Linked DNA regions of Homo sapiens. The protein of the gene in region 1 purifies or fractionates together with the protein of each later gene. This does not show direct contact. Each region holds a gene or a part of one and is shown on either strand. Other genes may lie near its edges.

Region 1 (3,822 bases):
GCACGGTGCCCTCTTTGGCCAAGGACAAAGTAGTGGGGAGGGGCTACTATAGGCCGAGACCCTGGAAATGGACCAAAGAAATGGGGATGAGATCAGTGCAGCTCTTGCTTCCCCAGGGCAGCACAGGCCAGGGCAGGGAGGCTGAGGAGAAGCGGAATGATACTGCTAGAACCTCTTTTCTCTCCTAAGGATTAGCACAGGGTGGGCTGTGAGGAAGCATTATAGGCAAGGCCTGTTCACGCAAAGAATCATGAGCCAACGAAGTCAAGAACAGGAGCCGGCCTCTTTTCAGGCCAGGACTCAGGGCTTTCTTGGTGCTCCTGTGTAGGTTGGGGTTTTAGGATTGCCAGGCCTCTTACCTAATGGACTTGTGGATTGGAGCAAGGCTGGATGGTCGGATTCCCAAACATTGGTAATTGGCAAAGCGTCAAGGGTCATTTGAATAGCACTAGAGTTAAATTTCTTGTCTGTGCCAGGACTCAAGTATCTCGGTACTTGGGGCCTAGCTCTGCTCATAGACAGACTAGAGCCCGGGCGCGATGGCTCACACCTGTAATCCCAGCACTTTGGGAGGCCGAGGCAGGAGGATCACCTGAGGTCAGGAGTTCGAGACCAACCTGGCCAACATGGCGAAACCCCGTCTCTACTAAAAATACAGAAATTAGCCAGGCATGGTGGCGTGCACGTCATCCCATCTACTCAGGAAACTGAGGCAGGAGAATCACTTGAACCCAGGAGGCTGAGGTTGCAGTTGAGCCAAGATCGTGCCACTGCACTTCAGCCTGGGCAACAGAACGAGACTCCATCTCAAAAAAAAAAAAAAAAAAAAAAAAAAAAAAAGAGTAGGGACTTCCTGCAAGGCAGTGGGCCGGTGTCATGAAGCACACAGAGACTCTTCTAGATTTAATTGGGATTTAGGAGATTAAAGCAATATGACAAATAAATACAATCTTGATCCTTGATTGGATTCTCCATCAGAGAAGGGAGCTATAAAGGACATACTGGAGATAATTGAGACATTTTTTAAATGAATGGCTGTGTTAGGTAAGCTTATTGAATCAACGCTGAATTTTTTGTGTACGATACCGGCAGATGGCTGTGTAAACAATGTCCTTATCCTTAGGAAGATGCAGGCTGAAACATTTTGGGATGACATGTCATGATTCAAATAGTTACATGCACACACACACACAGTGTGTGTGTGTATAGAGAGAGAATGCAAAGATGGCAAAATGTTAACCATTGGTGAATCTAGGTGAAGGGTGTATGGTATTCATTGTATTATTATTTCAACTTTTCTGTAGGTTTGGAATTTTTCAAAAGAGAATGTTGGAACAAAGAAGCCAACATTCTTCTTTGGGAAATTTCTTGGGAAAGGGGTTGGTTTTTCAGACACTCTGGAGGTGGTGGTCTGAGTGGGTAGCACAGCCTTCATCTGTCTGTCTTAACCATGTGACTTGGCCCTGGTTCCCCTGAAGTCACCCTGCTGTCAGGTCCACCTGTGTCCTCTGCCCTCACCAACCTGTTCACCATAGGTGTGGGCTCTGGAAGCTACAGAGACCCCAGCCTTCCCAGAATGACCCAGGAGCAGGTGAACTTCCCCATCATCTCTCCTGCCTTTGTGATGGCAGTGTGGTCCTTTTTGATGGCAGTGTGGTCCTTTTTGATGGCAGTGTGGTCCTTTTTGATGGCAGTGTGGTCCTTTGTGATGGCAGTGTGGGCCTCTGTGACGGCAGCGTGGGCCTCTGTGACGGCAGCGTGGGCCTCTGTGATGGCAGAGTGGGCCTCTGTGATGGCAGCGTGGTCCTTTGTGATGGCAGCGTGGGCCTCTGTGACGGCAGCGTGGGCCTCTGTGACGGCAGCGTGGGCCTCTGTGATGGCAGAGTGGGCCTCTGTGACGGCAGAGTGGGCCTTTGTGATGGCAGCGTGGGCCTCTGTGATGGCAGCGTGGGCCTCTGTGACGGCAGCGTGGGCCTCTGTGACGGCAGTGTGGTCCTTTGTGATGGCAGCGTGGGCCTTTGTGATGGCAGCGTGGGCCTTTGTGATGGCAGTGTGGTCCTCTGTGATGGCAGTGTGGTCCTTTGTGATAGCAGAGTGGGCCTTCGTGATGGCAGTGTGGTCCTCTGTGATGGCAGTGTGGGCCTTTGTGATGGCAGTGTGGTCCTACTTTCTGTTCTCTTAGCAAAATCTCAGAAGCCAAGTAGTGGAGGGCCAAGTAGATATTTGCCAGTTGTTTATATCACTTTAGGTCCTTGTCTTTAAGCAGCTTAGGCTGATATATCAAAATACCACAGACTGGGTTGCTTAAACAACAGGCATTATTTCCTACACTTTTGGAGGCTGGGAAGTCCAAGATGGAGGTGTTGGCAGATTCTGGTTTTGGTGAGGGCTCTCTTTTTGGCCTGCAGACAGCCACCTTCTTGCTGTACTTTCACATGCCAGAGAGAGAGGGATGTCTCTTCCTCTTCTTATCAGGGCCCTCATAGCATTGTAGGGACTCCACCATCGTGACCTCGTCTAAATCTCACCTCCCAAAGACCCCCACCTCCAGATACCATCACACTGGGGGTTAAGACTTCAACAGATAGATTTGCAGGGGACACAAATATTTAGTCCAGAACAGGCCCAGTGACTTACTGGGGAAAAAACTAGAAATAATCCAAATGTTCATTAATTAGCACATTGGATTCATTAGCAAATTAGTATGAAATAAGTAAAAAGGTAGAACATAAAATATTGTATTCACAATAACTATAACGATATAGAGCAACTGAATAGAAGATGCCTTGGAGGGCTGTAAGTAGAGTTCCCTGTTCAGTAGTTCCAGTGGGTATTTTTTTGTAAAGTTGTTTGAGTGCCTAACTTAATTTTTTTCCATATATGAAAGAAGTCCAGGGGCTTTCCTAATAGATAAACTTTGTTCTTTCAGAGAGAAAGAGCCTTGGTTACAGACTAATGTCAGCTAGAATTTTCTGCTTAGCAAGAAGGAGTATGTTTTTAAAGAATATGTCTTGAGAAAAAAAGCCACCTAGCTTTGGAGAGCTAGAAATGAAATGGTGAGCATGCAGACAGTTTCCTTTTTGTAGCCCCGCTCTTTCCCACTCGGCTCAAACCACACTGTGGGAGGAGGGAGACCAGCTTGGGCCTCTGGTAAACCGTCTTCCAGAGAAATGCCAGATCCCTGATGGTTAGGAGTATTTCTGGAACAACCTGCGTTTGGCCACACTGGGCTTGCCACTGTTAAGGACAGATGTATGGAACAGGATGAGGAGGTCAGGTTCAGAAGCCCCTTCTCTAAGGGGACCTCATGCAGAACTGTTTCCAGCATTCTTTTTTTTTTTTTTTTTTTTGAGACGGAGTTTTGCTCTTGTCGCCCAGGAGTGCAGTGGCGCAATCTCAGCTCACTGCAACCTCCACCTCCTGGGTTCAAGCAGTATTCCTGCCTCAGCCTCCCAAATAGCTGGGATTACAGTCATGCACCACTATGCTTGGCTAATTTTTGTATTTTTAGTAGAGGCGGGGTTTCGCCATGTTGGCCAGGGTGGTCTTGAACTCCTGGCCTCAAATGATCAGCCTGCCTCGGCCTCCCAAAGTGCTGGGATTACAGGCATGAAAAAAAAAAAAGCTGGCCGGGCGCGGTGGCTCACGACTGTAAACCTAGCACTTTGGGAGGCCGAGGCGGGCGGATCACGAGGTCAGGAGATCGAGACCATCCTGGCTAACACAGTGAAACCCCATCTCTACTAAAAATACAAAAAATTAGCCGGGCGTGGTGGCGGGCACCTGTAGTCCCAGCTACTCGAGAGGCTGAGGCAGGAGGAT
Region 2 (3,822 bases), on another chromosome or scaffold:
TATTTGCTGACTATTGATGTATTCATGGCAAGTGCTTTACAAGAAAACAAATGTGTACCCCATCCTGAAGGAGCTTATCTTTTTCAGAAAATAGGACATGTATAATGACAGCACGGGTAGAAAATAAAGTACCATATAAGAAAGAGAGATGAGGCACAGCTAAGAGTTCACAAGCAATATTACTTCCAGCTTAGAGACTTGGAACAAAGCTAGGAAAGATTATATTTGAACTCGTCTTGAAGTACAGATAGAATGTTGAAGACAGTAGGGTGAAAGGACATTTTAGACGTTGTGACAGTGGTGCTGTAAGAACAGAAAACTAGAAAATAAAAAGGAAGAGGCCAGAACAGAAAACTAAAAAATAAAAAGGAAGAGGCCCTTAATGCCAGACTAAAAAGTTTAGACTTTATTCTGTAGGCAGTTGTGATTATTGTTATGTCCTACCTTGTGTTGGTTGTGGCATGTACTTCGAAAGGAGAAGCATTGAGCAGCCATATATTAATATACTTAAGTAAATAGGAATTTGCATAGATATGGGGGTGAGGGACATCATAAGCAGTTGTTTCTCCCATTCTCAAGTATAATGGCTGTAGAGCTCTGGTCAGCCCACTATCAAAATCAGAGCATATTGGAACCTAATAGGACATTTTGAAATGGCCCTATTGGCTTCCTTTCTCACGTCTCAACTCCACCCAAGATTAAAGTATTTCAATCTTTTTCCCCAAATGCTGCAGTGGTAGAAACATTCATTTTGTCTGCTCGGGCAATGCCCATTTCATCTTCAATATCAGATGTGATATAATAAATATCTTTATGAAATAATTGAAAAAACTAGGCATTTGGGGGAACACCAAGTAAACTGTAGAAATAATGAGAAAATATTACTAGAACAGAATAAATTAATTTTTTGTTATACTTACAACACTTTAAGATGGTATCAAAAAAATTAAATGCTGAAAAAGATTAGCTTGTATTTTGTAACTATAAAAGAGTGAAGCTGACTCGTTATGAGTCCCAAAACAGAGCTATTTGGTATTATTTTTTATTTGAGAAGTAATGGAGCATTTTATTGTAAAAAATGCAGTTTAAAACAAAATTTTATCTTTAGGAAATGTATCTAGTGATTTTAGAATGTTTTAGTTCAATACATTGGTTATTCCTCTATTTCTGGTTGGGAAAAAAGCTTTACCCATGGAGTTAAGGGTAGTTACATTATTTAGAAGATTATCTTTAAAGCGTATATCAAAATGATAACTATAATTTATTTAAATTGGTCCCTTAGTGATGAATCCAGATGACACATTTGAGGTGTTAGTTGATCAAACAGTTGTAAACAAAGGAAGCCTCCTAGAGGATGTGGTTCCTCCTATCAAACCTCCCAAAGAAATTGAAGATCCCAATGATAAAAAACCTGAGGAATGGGATGAAAGAGCAAAAATTCCTGATCCTTCTGCCGTCAAACCAGAAGACTGGTAAGCAAATAATTCGGTAGCAAAGCATTATCTGGCATAACTAGGTAATGAAACAACATATAAGTGAAGTTTACAACCCATGAAGTTTATTTTTTTAAACATCAGAACTACTTATTTTTAGTATTTTGGGTGAAATATTTTCTAAAATGGATTTTACACTTCCCTCCCTGTAATTTTTTTTTATTTCTATTGATAATTATGTTGCATTTTTTAATATATATTTATTTTTTATGTTTTCAATGCTGTGGATTAAAAATTTCATAAATCCAAAATACCAGTGCTTTAATTTTCATTCCTAGTTTGATCTTTATTGTATGTGTGTGAGAGTCCGAGGTGGGCAGATCACCTGAGGTCAGGAGTTCGAAACCAGCTTGGCCAACATGGCGAAACCCCGTCTCTACTAAAAACACAAAAATTAGCGGGCATGGCGGCGGGTGCCTGTAATCCCAGCTACTCGGGAGGCTGAGGCAGGAGAATTGCTTGAACCCAGGAGGCAGAGGCTGCAGTGAGCCCAAGGTCGTGCCACTGCACTCCAGCCTGGTGACAGAGCAAGATTCTGTCTCAAAAAAAAAAAAAAAAAAAAAAAAGAGTATGTTTGCCCTTAAATGAGAGAAACCACATATAACTGCTTCATTCTGATTGTTGAAATGTGTTAGAATTTGTTTTACAAAGTACTAAAAGAAATGCTCCATTAAATTTTAACTTTTGGTTACTCTGAGCACTCAGAAACTCAAGATGACATTGGTATCAGGCAAGCACAAATCTATACATTTGTAAAGTTGATTATTTCTGTTTATTTTGTAACTCATTTGGAAAATCATGAAGTGTCCTCTTGTTTAAAATTTCTATCTTTCTGTAATGATGAAAATTGTATTAGTAGTTCAGTACTTTATGTTTATATACTTCAGAATTTACTAAGTGTTTTGTTTTTGTTTTTGTTTTTGTTTGAGATGGAATCTCGCTCTGTCACCCAGGTTAGAATGCAATGGCGTGATCTCAGTTCACTGCAGCCTCTGCCTCCTGGGTTCAAGGGATTCTCCTGCCTCAGCCTCATGAGTAGGTGGGATTACAGGCAAGCGCCACCACGCCCGGCTAATTTTTGTATTTTTAGTAGAGATGGGATTTCACCATGTTGGTCAGGCTGGTCTCGAACTCCCGATCTCGTGATCCTCCCGCCTCAGCCTCCCAAAGTGCTGAGACTACAGGCTTGAGCCACCACGCCAGCCTAAGTGTTCTTTTTAAAATAAGAATGCTAGAATTAAATAAGGAGAGTTTTAAAAATTATATTGGAATAGGGAAGAACTTTCCAAATATGACATAAAATCCAAGAATCCTTTAAAAATAAGTTCAACTACATGAAAATAAATGATTTGTATATTGCAAAAAAAAAAACCTCCCTAAACTATTTCAAAAAACACACAAGAACCAGGAAAAATTATTTTCAATCATATAGCTGACAGAGAGCTAATTTCTTAGTATAAAGGTAATGAGCTAAGAAAAAATAGTTTTTGTGTATCACTTATGCTACTAAATGTACATTCAAAGTTCAGTGAGATACCATTTTTCACCTACCACATGGGCAGAAATCAAGAAGTTTGGTAACACTCTTCGCAAGGACAGGAGAAAATAGGTACTTTTGCATGCTGCTGGTAGAACCGGAAGTGGAGTGTAACCATTATAGAGAGTAATTTGGATGCTACTATCAAAATTTAAAATGTCCATACTCTTAACAATTATATTTTCACAGATGAGAAATGGCATATATTCTAGGACATTCACTATGGCATTGTTTGTATTAATAATAGTAAAATTTTGGAAACACTAAATGTCCTCCAAGAGGAGATAAGCTAAATAAATTATGGTGTATCCTCAAGTAGAAAACTATGCAACTGTTAAGAATGAAGCTATGTGTATATATATATATGTGTATATATATATATATACATATATATATATATACATATATATATATATATGTATATATATATGCTCCAGCCAGGCATGGTGGCTCATGCCTGTAATCCCAGCACTTTGGGGGGCTGAGGTGGGTGGATCACCTGACGTTAGGAGTTCAAGACCAACCTGGCCAACATAGTGAAACCCCATCTCTACTAAAAATACAAAAACTTAGCCAGGCGTGGTGGCAGGTGCCTGTAATCCCAGCTACTCTGGAGGCTGAGGCAGGAGAATTGCTTGAACCCGGAAGGCAGAGGTTGCAGTGAGCTGAGGTCGCACTATTGCACTCCAGCCTGGGAAACAAGAACAAGACTCCACCTCAAGAAAAAAATAATAATAATGGAGCTCCTCGAACAGTCTTGACACATAGTAAGCATGCAATATATATTTGTTG

Evidence for each region.
Region 2: the proteins of MXRA7 (region 1) and CLGN purify together in Homo sapiens (co-immunoprecipitation; one large-scale study listed by IntAct). This does not show direct contact.

What each region holds. Positions count from the first base shown.
Region 1 is NC_000017.11:76,704,310-76,708,131, reverse strand, and holds part of MXRA7 (matrix-remodeling-associated protein 7), read left to right. Parts: intron 1-3,822.
Region 2 is NC_000004.12:140,396,501-140,400,322, reverse strand, and holds part of CLGN (calmegin precursor), read left to right. Parts: intron 1-1,282; coding exon 1,283-1,472; intron 1,473-3,822. UniProt on the Homo sapiens protein: Functions during spermatogenesis as a chaperone for a range of client proteins that are important for sperm adhesion onto the egg zona pellucida and for subsequent penetration of the zona pellucida.